Linked DNA regions of Homo sapiens: region 2 is linked to region 1. The links come from fine-mapping of genetic effects on gene expression. Tissue or cell type: whole blood. Region 1 holds a variant in brackets; the other region holds the start of a gene. All regions are shown on one strand. Distances are between the middles of the regions.

Region 1 (5,309 bases):
TCGTGATGGAATATCCAGTCTTTTAGGTAAAGTTCAAGTCACTTTCTCCCCCTCCCTCCCCCTAGAACAGCTACACTGCCTGGTTCCCAGAAAACAAAGATCACTAACTGTCGTGGCCGTCAGTTCTGAGTTCTAATCCCAGCTTTGCCATTTTAGGCAAGTTGCTAAATCTCTCTCAGTTGTTGTAAAGACTGGTGAGCCACGCATGCCCAGCACTTGGGCGCATAAAAGGCATAAAAGAAACGTGTATTCCCTTCCAGCCACCCTCCAAAAACAAGCCAACAAACAGGCACCAGAAACACGAAGGGAATGTGCTGGCTGAACTCTCACCCATCACCAAGGGGAAGTCTATAGTCCCTGACCACAGCTCTTTGGTTTCAGCTCCCGCGGTCTCTCAGCTGGTCAACTCTGAGGAAGCTGGGCTGGGGGGTCCCTGAGCACTCTCTGTTCACTTAGGCCTGGTAGCCTGACTGTAGCAGCTGCATTCTGGCCCCTAGCCCTCACCATGACAACCAGCCTGTCCAGACACGAGCCAGCCAGGCTAGGGAGGGCTGGGGGGCCGCTGAGGCTGCAAGCTGGTGCCCAGGGTTCCCCCAGTCCCTCCCTCAGGGTGCAGGACCAATCATTATTATACCCTTTTCCCCAGACATTCTGTTTCCTCCCTAGAGGCAGTGACCCCTCACTCTCCATCCTGTGTAATGCCACAGGGGAGGGAGCCAAGGGCCGAGGGCTCTGGGAAGGAACTTGAGGGTTGGTTGGGGTTGGGGGAGGAAAGCAGGAGTCAACTAGCCCCCAAGGGCCAGCTCAGCTAGACAAGAGCCCTCTGCATTCCCAGGACAGAGGACAGCTGAGGTGAAAGCTGCAGTTGGCCAGCCGGTCTGTCGGTCTGGGCTCCTCCCTGCCGGCTGCCCTTGGCTGCCCACAGAAACCTGAGTCACACTCACAGCCAGCCACCCAACCCCACCCTGCCTGCTGTCAAGCAGGGCGGTTCTAGAGAGAGTGGAGGTGGAGCCTTTCCCTGCCTGTCCAACAGCCTCCGAGATTTTGCCTCTCTCTGCCTGGGATTCCTCCTCTTGGCGTCTCTTTCTCTTTGGGACTTGCAGTGTCATTAGTCCTGAATGAACAGTGGGGGTGGGGGCCATCTCAGGTTGATCTATATGATCCCCTCCTCACTCAGATAGGTTCTTAAAGGCTTCTTAGGCCGAGCACAGTGGCTCATGCCAGTAACCCCAGCACATTGGGAGGCAAAGGCAGGAGGAACACTTTAGCCCAGGAGTTTGAGACCAGCCTGGGCAACATAGTGAGACCCCCATCTCCATAAAAAATAATTTTTAAAAAGGCTGTTCTGTTATGAAATAGCCACTCTTTTGTTTATTTACTTTTTTAACAAAAATAAATAAAAATTAAAAAAAACAACAACCAGCTGAGCATTGTGGTGTGCACCTCTGGCCCCCAGCTACTAGGAAGGTTAAGGTGGGAAGATTGCTTGAGCCCAGGAGGTGGAGGGTGCAGTGAGCCATGTTTGCACTACTGCACTCCAGCCTGGGTGACAGAACTGAAACCTTGTCTCAAAACAACAACAACAACAACAAAACTCCTTAGACAGCTGTTCCAAGGATTCTCAGTATGGTTTCCATCATTCCCAAATCCCAACCCTCCTTACCACTTCTAGGTGCCAGGACATTTAGGAACACCAGATGTCCCCTCACCACCCTCTTCTCCTTCTCCCTAGAAAACAACACAAGGGATAGCTTTCTGTTCCTATCAGGGGCTCTAGACAAAGACTCTCTCCTGGGAACCCAAAGGGTTGAATCTATTTAGTCCTGTATCTGAGTTCCCCGCCTCCCCAAGAGCTGGACAGGGAGGGGCAGCTGGCATCACCAGCCACAGGGAGTGGGCCCTGGGAGCTGAGGCCCCCCAGGAAGGCCGGTGCTGGTTAGAGACCCCGTGTTGCTGCAGTCCCTTGAGGCTGGGGCAGTGCCTTGAGGCTGGGGTGGGAGTGAGAATGGGTGCCTATTCTCTCCTCTGCCCCCACTGTGAGGCCCCTCCCACTTCCTGCAGTAATTTGTGGGTGTGGGAGCAGCATCCAAGGCCTCAGTTCTGAGAGATTTGTTAATTTTCTTAACTCTCCCAGTGATTTCCTTCATCTCTCCATCAGGTTCATCCTGGATCCTGCCCCACCAAACTAGGAGGCTGAAAATATCCTTGCCTTTCTTCCCCTCGGGGAAACAGGATGGAAACATATTTCTTTTTCTTTTTTTTTTTTTTTTGTCCTCCTTTTTTTTTGAGAGAGTCTTGCTCCGTCGCCCAGGCTGGAGTGCAGTGGTGTGATCTTGGCTCACTGCAACCTCCGCCTCCCAGGTTCAAGTGATTCTCCTGCCTCAGCCTCCTGAGTAGCTGGGACTACAGGCATGTGCCACCATGCCTGGCTAATGTTTTTGTATTTTTAGTAGAGACTGGGTTTCGACATGTTGGCCAGGTTGGTCGTGAACT[C/G]CTGACCTCAGGTCATCTGCCCACCTCGGCCTCCCAGAGTGCTGGGATTACAGGTGTGAGCCACCCCCGCCTGGCCAAAAATTTCTTTAGTATACTCTTTTTTTAAAGATTTTTTTTACTATCTTTTCTCTCTTTTTTTAGACAGGGTCTCTGTCGTCCAGGCTGGAGTGCAGTGGCACAAACATGGCTCACTGCAGCCTTGACCTTCCGGGCTCAAGTGATCCTCCCACCTCAGCCTCCTGAGTAGTTCAGACTACAGGCACGCACCACGATGCCTGGCTAATTTTTTGTATTTTTGGTGGAGACAGGGTTTCGCCATGTTGCCCAGGCTGGTCTCGAACTCCTGAGCTCAAGTGATCTACCTGCACTGGCCTCCCAAAGTGCTGGGATTAGGCGTGAGCCACTGTGCCTGGCCAGGATAGGAACATATTTCTGATCCCCATTCTGTGGGCTTCCCCCAGCCCCAGCCCAACCTTGCGGTGAAAGGAACAGCTCACTCATGCCTGTTTCCGTGCAGAAGGAGGAGACTGCCCTGGGCCACGATCTCCTACTGCCCTGGTCCAGAGGTCCCTGTCGCTCGCCAAAGACTGCAGGGAATGCTGTTGGGACTTCAGCCTCTTATGTTAGGGTTTCAGCAAGTACCCTACTTGCTCCTTCTCTGGGATGTCTATTTGTGGTGCCCCATGCAGCGTTACCTAGCCCCAAACTCAGAGAGAGACACTCTTAACCCTCTTGGTTGCTGGGGCCTGGAATCTGCCAGGGATCCTGGCCAGTGAGGAGGAGAATGGAGAGGAGTCCACTTCCTCTGTCCACCAACTGCCTCAATCACGGAACACGGGTGCTCTCCAGGCCCCTCCTCAGCCATCCTCCGCACACTCCCTGTGGACTCATCAGCAGCACAGGAAACCTTCAGGTCTGGCCAGGAGAACTGTCGTTTAAGCTGCCTAACTCCCAGATGCTCTGCTGGTCTCCAGCACCAACATCTTGTGAGTGCCTCACCCTCAAGCTAGGGAAGGGTTCCTCAACCTTAGCACTACTGACATTTTGCACCTGAGAATTCCTTATTGTGAGGATGGTCCTACGCAATGTAGGATGGTAAACAGCATCCCTGGCTTCTACGCGGTAGCTGCCATGTTTAGAGACACACCCCCCGCCCACCGCCGTATGTCTCTAAACATGGCTAAATGTCTCCTGGGGGGCAAAATTGCCCTTGGTTGAGAACCCCCTGATGTAGGCTAATACCAGGGGCTCTTTTTAGTGAGCTCCCCACAGTCAATCCCAAAGACAATAGATTTCCAGTTCTAAAGTCTGCTCACCCTTCCTCTACTGAAAAACCCCATAATCTTCAACAGCTCCCCATGCTTGTTTCCAAGCATTTGGCATTCAAGTCCTCCTACGTGGGCTGTCCCTGGCCTATCTGTTCATTTTTAGCTGCCATTTCCACCTCCACTATTCCTTTTGTTTGTTTGGCTGTTTGTTTGTTTTGTTGTGGCAGGGTCTCATTCTGTTGCTCAGGCTGAAGTGCAGTGGCATGATCTTGGCTCACTGCAACCTCCGCCTCTGGGGTTCAAACGATTCTCCTGCCTCAGCCTCTGGAGTAGCTGGGATTACAGGCACCCACCACCACACCTGGCTAACTTTTGTATTTTTGGCAGAGACAGGGTTTCACCATGTTGGCCAGGCTGATCTCGAACTCCTGACTTCAAGGATCCTCCCACCTTGGCCTCCCAAATTGCTGGGATTACAGTGTGAGCCACCACAGCCAGCCACTAGTCTTGAGCCGTAGCCAATGTGGGTATCTCGCGACTCCCATCCATCCATCCATCCATCTCCATCCCTGCAGTAATCTCAAGACAAGGGGTGGGAGGTGGGAGAAGAACCATTCCAGAGGGCTCTCTCCCCATACGTGTTCCTGAATTCTCCTGAGTCTGGTCACTGCCTGAGTCAGGTCTGGCCTGTCCAGCTCTGGAAGAGGCAGGCTGTGAGGCCCCTGACCTCACAAAGGACTGTCATGAACTCCGTCATCCCCGCAGTCCCCCCACCCTGCAGATAAGATGACTGACACAAAGATGGGGGATCTGCTCCTCGTCCTTCCACTTTTACTCATCAATGCCTTCATCACCATTATACTTGTTTACTGAGCACTTCCTAGATGCCAGGTTCTGTGCTCAGCACTTCATTTCCATTGCCTTATTTAATCTTTACAAAGACCCCAAGATACCTCATGGCACTACTATTTTTCTGATTTTGTAGGAGAGCAAATTAGATTTTAGAAAAGTTAAGTCACTAGCTCAAGGTTACTGGCTCCAGTTGCCGCCCTTCTATCATCATCCTTTTCTAATGTTTTTGGGCCAGAGGGGACACTATTCCCTTCCCAGGCCTTCCCAAGAGTGTCCAAGCCCCCAGATACGCACACATCCCAGGACAGGCTGCTCCCAGGTTGCCTGAGCCCCTGACCCTTTTGTTTCCCACTCTATCCCTCCAAATGGCCGCTTTCTGGAGCTGCTTAAAGGAAGGAGAAACTGGAGGGAAGGGGGGCAAGGGGGACAGTATCTCACTGGGCCTAATCTCTGGACAATGAAGAACTAGAGAACTGACCTTCTAGAAGTCAGGACAAAGGGCAGGGCCAGGGTGGGCAGGGCACAGCTGCCCCTCCTCCTCCCCCGCAACCCAAGTCCCTGCAGCAGCACCACCATCATCCATCCACCTTCCCAGCAAGCTCCCCACTCTGCCCCGGGCTGGGCCTGGCTTGGCTTGAAGCCCTCACCTCAGCTGGCACCAACAAGGGGGCTGGGAGTCCATTCTGGAGGGCTGGG
Region 2 (5,169 bases), 28 kb before region 1:
AAACAACTCTGGAGACCAGTACAGCATTCCCATTTTAGAGATGGGGAAACTGAGGCACAGAGCTGGGAAGTCCTAGATCTGTCTGACTCCCAATGCCAGCTCATCTCCACACAGCACATGCTGCCTTACTCAAGATCTGCTGTCCACACTCCACCCACTCTGGAAATGCCCTCAGAACAAAGTGGGCCTGGAATTCTCTTTCTGGGAGTCAGACTTCCATGACTGGTACTTGGGCACATGTGTGTCCACATATGGCCTCGCAAACCCACCCAGGCTTCAAGGCTACACTCAGCCTCCAGCTCCCAGTCATCTCAACTTATCAGACCCCAGCGCCAAACCCACATCTCCCCTGCACCTGCCTTCTCTGGGGACAGGCCACAGCCATCCAGTGCAAGGCTTCTGGCCCCATCGCCAACCGGCTTACTCCTTTCCATCTACTTCTTCCTCTCATCCCCATGGCAACCGCCCACTTCATCCCCCGTCACCTTTCTCCTTAAACTCTGCCCAGCCTCCTCTGTGATCTCCCTTGCCTCGAAGATCCCCCCTTCATCCTTGTTCCCCAGAGCAGCCAGAGTGATTCCCAGATTATATCATTCGCAGCTCACACCCTTTCTCTAGACAGGGCCCTTAGAAATCTGACCTCAAAGTCATGAGTCCCTCCCACTCCCCAGTGTGATCCAACAGTGCCCATTACTCCCATTACTCACTGTCCCTGAGAGAACCCTGAAGCTTCCCCCTCCACACCTCTGCACGAGCTGTGCCCTCAGCCAGGAACACCCTCCCATTCACCCTTTCCACCCCCTGCACCTGTCAAAATTATCATCTTCGAAAGCCCTGGCCAGATTACCTCTTAGGTGCCACCTTCCCTGATCTGCACTTTGGCTTGCATGGTGCCCCTCCTCGGGTACCTAGTAGGGCACCGTGAGACCACAGCCACACCCCAGAGGAGAGGCCGCTGTGTCTCTCTCGTTCCTCCGACCCGACACTATAATTTCCTCCTGCCACGGATGGGACCAGCGCATCTGAGACCCCACTTCCCTGTAAGAGGTGCCCCATCCCTGCCACTGAGAGTTCTGGAGCGGGCTGGGGGGCCAGCAGGGCAAGGAAGCTGGGGCTGTGCGTCCTTTGTTCCGGCTCAGGCAGGAGCAGAGAAGGTAGTGGAGTACAGGGGCTCAGGCTGACAGCCCTGCTTAGTATCTTTCTCCTCCCTCTTGCTAACAGACACATTCACTTCCATATTTTCTTTCCCCTTCCTCTGAGCCAAAGAGCGGAAATTCTCATTTTCACTGTGGTAGACGAAGTGAAACCAGAGAAAGAGACCCTGGTGAGTGTGTCTGGGTGTGAGCGTATGTGTGTGTGTGCCGTCCTGTCTGAGTATGTCTGGCTGGGCCACGTGGGGCCTGCCATGTGTCTGTAGGAGTTTGGGTGTGTGTGCATGTGTCCGCCTGTGTCTTGTGGTGGTGTATGTTTCATTAGAGGAGGGTGTCCGCATGAATCTAATGAATGTTTGGGTCGGTGTGTGACTGTGCATGGCTCTCAGAAGGGTGCAAGGCTGTGTGTGGCTGGGTGAGCATGTCTGTGGTTTCTCCTCATTATCATCTAGGGTCATTGTGTGTCCAAGGGTTTGTAGGTGTTCACCAGTCCACTGGGAAGCCAGTGACAGCACCTGTGCCCTGATGGAGACCACCAACCATGGTGTCTCTCCAGAGATCACCAACTCCTGCCCTGCGGCCCCCTCTGCTTGGGGCAGTAAGGATCAGTCGATCTTAGCTCAGTCCCCAGAGAGGAACCCCAGGCTGCCTGACCCTCCAGCCATCCAGCTCCACGGCCCCCAGATTTTTCAAATGCCCAGTACAGCTGCTGGGAGGCTGTCCTTGCCAAGGGGACTCTGCTAAGAGGAGTGGATGAGCCCCTGCTGCCAGCCTGAGCAAGAGGTACTGATAGCAGACAGGAGGGATGATTTCTGGTTGCTCCGGCACCCCTAAGGAGGTCAGCCGCACGTCTGTGTCAGGAACCCAGCATGGTCTCACACAGGCACACACACGTGCGTGCACACATACAACCAGCAAAGTTTTCCCCGTGGCAATAGCGTTCCTGGGCCCTCTGGCTGAATAGCATTTCTCTACCTGGAGGATTTCCGGGGCTAGGGTGGCTCCAGACCCAGGGCAGAGACACTGGGAGGTTGTTCTGGGGCCCTGGGACCCCAGTCCCTCTTGGCCAGGCAGCGGCCCCTCACCCCCTGCAAGTCTCAGTCTGGAGCTGGGGGGATGCTGAGCCCCTGACAGGAACATTCCTGGGAACTTGTCTTCAGTTTGGGGCGAGGGGACTGACAGGGCACCTAGAATAGGAGGAACCTGGGGGCTAAGGCAGAAAAACCTTATAACTGGAAGGTCTCCAGCAAATCAGCAATGGCAGAGAGATGGGGGCAGGAGTGAGAGCGGGGGGATGCTAAGGCCCCTCACTCCCTCCTCTCTCCTCCACTACCCTGTGAAGGCGGCTTTTTTATCCCCACTTTACAGGTGGGACGGGAGATCGGGAGGTGGTGACGCGCCCAGAGCCACATCGTCGGGGGTTGCACCCGGCACTGTCTTATGCTGGAGCCCTCGCTTCTGGGAGAGGAAGGGAGGAGGGGGCTTTACTGGGATCCTGCCGGGGAGGGAACGGGGCACAGGGAACGGGATGGGCTCCCCCATTCTAAGGCGACCCCCTGGCCCGAGTCCCCCACCGCGTCCCCACCCCGGAGTCCGAGGCGCCGGCCCTGCTATCCCGCATGGTGTTGGGGGAAGCCCAGCCCAGGTCTTGCCCTCGGAGCCCCCCAGCCCGAGCCCCGGTGCCCGCCTCCTGGCCTTTACCTGCGGGCGCGGCCGCCGGGCGCCGCTCCCGGCCCTCGAGGGCGGCCCGGGCGGCGAGGGCTCCGGGCAGGGGCGTCCGCGGCTGGGCGGGCGGCGTTGGGGTCCGGGGTCCGCGCCGGCGGGGTTCCGCGTCGCTCTGCCGGCCGCCCCTCGCGGCTGCCGGAGTGGGCGGGCGGCAGGAGGGGCGCGTCGGGGCGGGGCCTCCGCCCTCCTCTTTCCACAGCCACGGCCAAGGCCCGCGCCCCGCCCGGCCCAGCGCGCCCAGCGCGGACTCGGACGGCTGCCTCCCTCCCCGACACCCACGCCGAGCCCCCTCCACACACGCGCTCCCGGGCGGCCCGCCCCCATCCCTCCCCGTCCACCTGACCCGCGGCTCGGCCGCCGGGGAGTCCGCGCAGCCCCTGCCCTCGAGGGGCCACCTGCCTGTGGGGACGGACGCGGCTGCTGAGAAGGACGGCCAGGCGTGGTCCTGCAGGGAAGGGGCAGCTCGGGCTGGTGGCCCCCAGTGAGGAGTCCCCAGAAGGCTGCCTGCAGACGTGACCTCGGTAGGCTGAGCCCGGAGGACTCACAGGGGCCAGTCGTGACCCGCACATTCAGGCTTTAGGGCATTGAGCCGGGGTCACAGAGGCAGGCGGGAGCAGGCCAGACCTCGTCCCTCGGAAATGGGGAGTCACGGAAGGCTCTGGAGCAGGGCAGTCACGTGGTCAGATGTGTGCTTTGGAAAGAGCCTCCCGAAGCTGTGTGGAGGAAGATAGAGGCAGGCCACCGAGGAGGCTGCGGGAATACCCTGGCATGGTCCCATGAGGTGCACAGTGAGGGGGAAGGAAAGGGAGGGCCCAGTGTGAGGGGAGTGAGGAGGCGAACTAGGCAGAGTTTGGGCGAGGGGCCTAGGAAGAAGCAGTGTCAAGGACAGTGCGCAGGCTTTGGGCTAGGCCTGGGGGCGGCAGGGTCTAGGAGAAGAAGGAGGACGGATGTAATGAATTGGATGAGCCTGTGGGACTTCCATGGATCCGGAAGGGAGGTGAGAGTTCTGGGATAGCGAGGAGGAATCCACGGTTTGCAGATGGCGACTGATGCCATAGAATAAGGAGCGGGCCCAGGGAGGCGGGCAGGGCGCGGGCAGGACACTCATCAGCATTCACGGGGCTGCCCAGGGAGAGGGGTCGGCAAAGGAGACTGAGAAGATGGCAGGGACCGGGAGAGCAGTGTCCCAGAAGGCAAAGGCAGAGTGCTTCTAGAAGGCCAGGGAGGCCCACGGGATGGGCTGTCACAGAAGGACATTCTTAGGGACAGCAATTAAGGGTTGGAGGTTGGGGTGGGGGTAGGGGCAGTAGCCAGGCAGCAGGGGAGAAAGGAGGAGGCAGCAAGTGCAGAGGGAAGGGGAGATGAGGTCAGGAAAGGATTTTGGGGTGTGTGTGTGTGTGTGTCTGTGTGCGTGTGTGCATGTAGGTGAGTGTGGGTGTCTGTGTGTGCATGTAGGTGGGTGTGGGCGTGTGTGTGCGTGCATGTGTGTGTGCGCGTGCCTGTGTGTGTACGTGTAGGTGGGTGTGTGTGTGTGTGTGTGCATGTGTGTGTGTGTGCGTGCCTGGGTGTGTGTGTGCATGCGTGTAGGTGGGTGTGGGCATATGTGGAGGTATGTGTGCTTGGGTGTGCAAGTGTGTGTGTGCGCGCATGGGTGGGGGGTCAGCATGTGTGTAGGTGTGTGGAGGGGTGGGGGTGTGTATTTGTGTGCGTGTGGGGAGGTATGTGCGTGGGGGGGTGTGGGGGGTGTGGCTGCATTTGGGTGTGTGGATGTGGCTATGTGGCTTTGTGTGGGTGTGTGTGGCTGTGTGGGTGTATTGTAGCTTTGTGTGTGTGGCTGTGTGGGGGGGTGTGAGTGGGAGTGTGTGTGGGGGGCTGTGTTTGGGGGTATGGGTGTCTGTGTGTGTGGGTGTGTGGGTGCCGCTGTGTGTTTGTGGGTATGGGTGTGTGTGTGGCTGTGTGTGGGGATGGGAGTGTGTGTGTGGCTCTGTGTTTGTGGGTGTGGGTGTGTGTGGCTGTGTGAGTGTGGGTGGGAGTGTGTGTGTGTGTTTGTGTGTCTGTGGGGGGGTGTGGGTGGCTGTGTGTGGGGGTGAGTGTGGCTGTGTGTGTGTGTATTTTCAGTGGGAAAGAGCAGAGCCCTCACCAGGTCCAGGAAAGGAGCAGGGAGGGCCCCAGGCTGTCTCGGGTCAGGGCCCACCCCCCTCAACCTTCCCCCTTCTGCTGCCTGCCCTCTGAGGGCCTCCCACTTTTCTGTCCCCCTGCCAAGGTACACACCAGCCCCGCCACTCCACAACGG

Evidence for each region. PIP is the estimated chance that this variant, and not a neighbour inherited with it, causes the effect.
Region 2: it holds the start of COL8A2, and the variant in region 1 is fine-mapped to the expression of COL8A2 in whole blood (TOPMed, PIP above 0.99).

Annotation. Positions count from the first base shown.
Region 1 is chr1:36,150,042-36,155,350 of GRCh38, forward strand. It overlaps a transcript of TRAPPC3 not described here. Among named protein-coding and RNA genes, the nearest start is that of TRAPPC3, 3.2 kb to the left of the region's middle. The variant C/G (reference allele first, on the strand shown) is at 2,494.
Region 2 is chr1:36,122,205-36,127,373 of GRCh38, forward strand. It overlaps COL8A2 (collagen type VIII alpha 2 chain), which reads right to left and starts at 3,018. Exons shown (of 4, transcript NM_005202.4): 1 at 2,853-3,018. RefSeq lists a silencer at 330-530.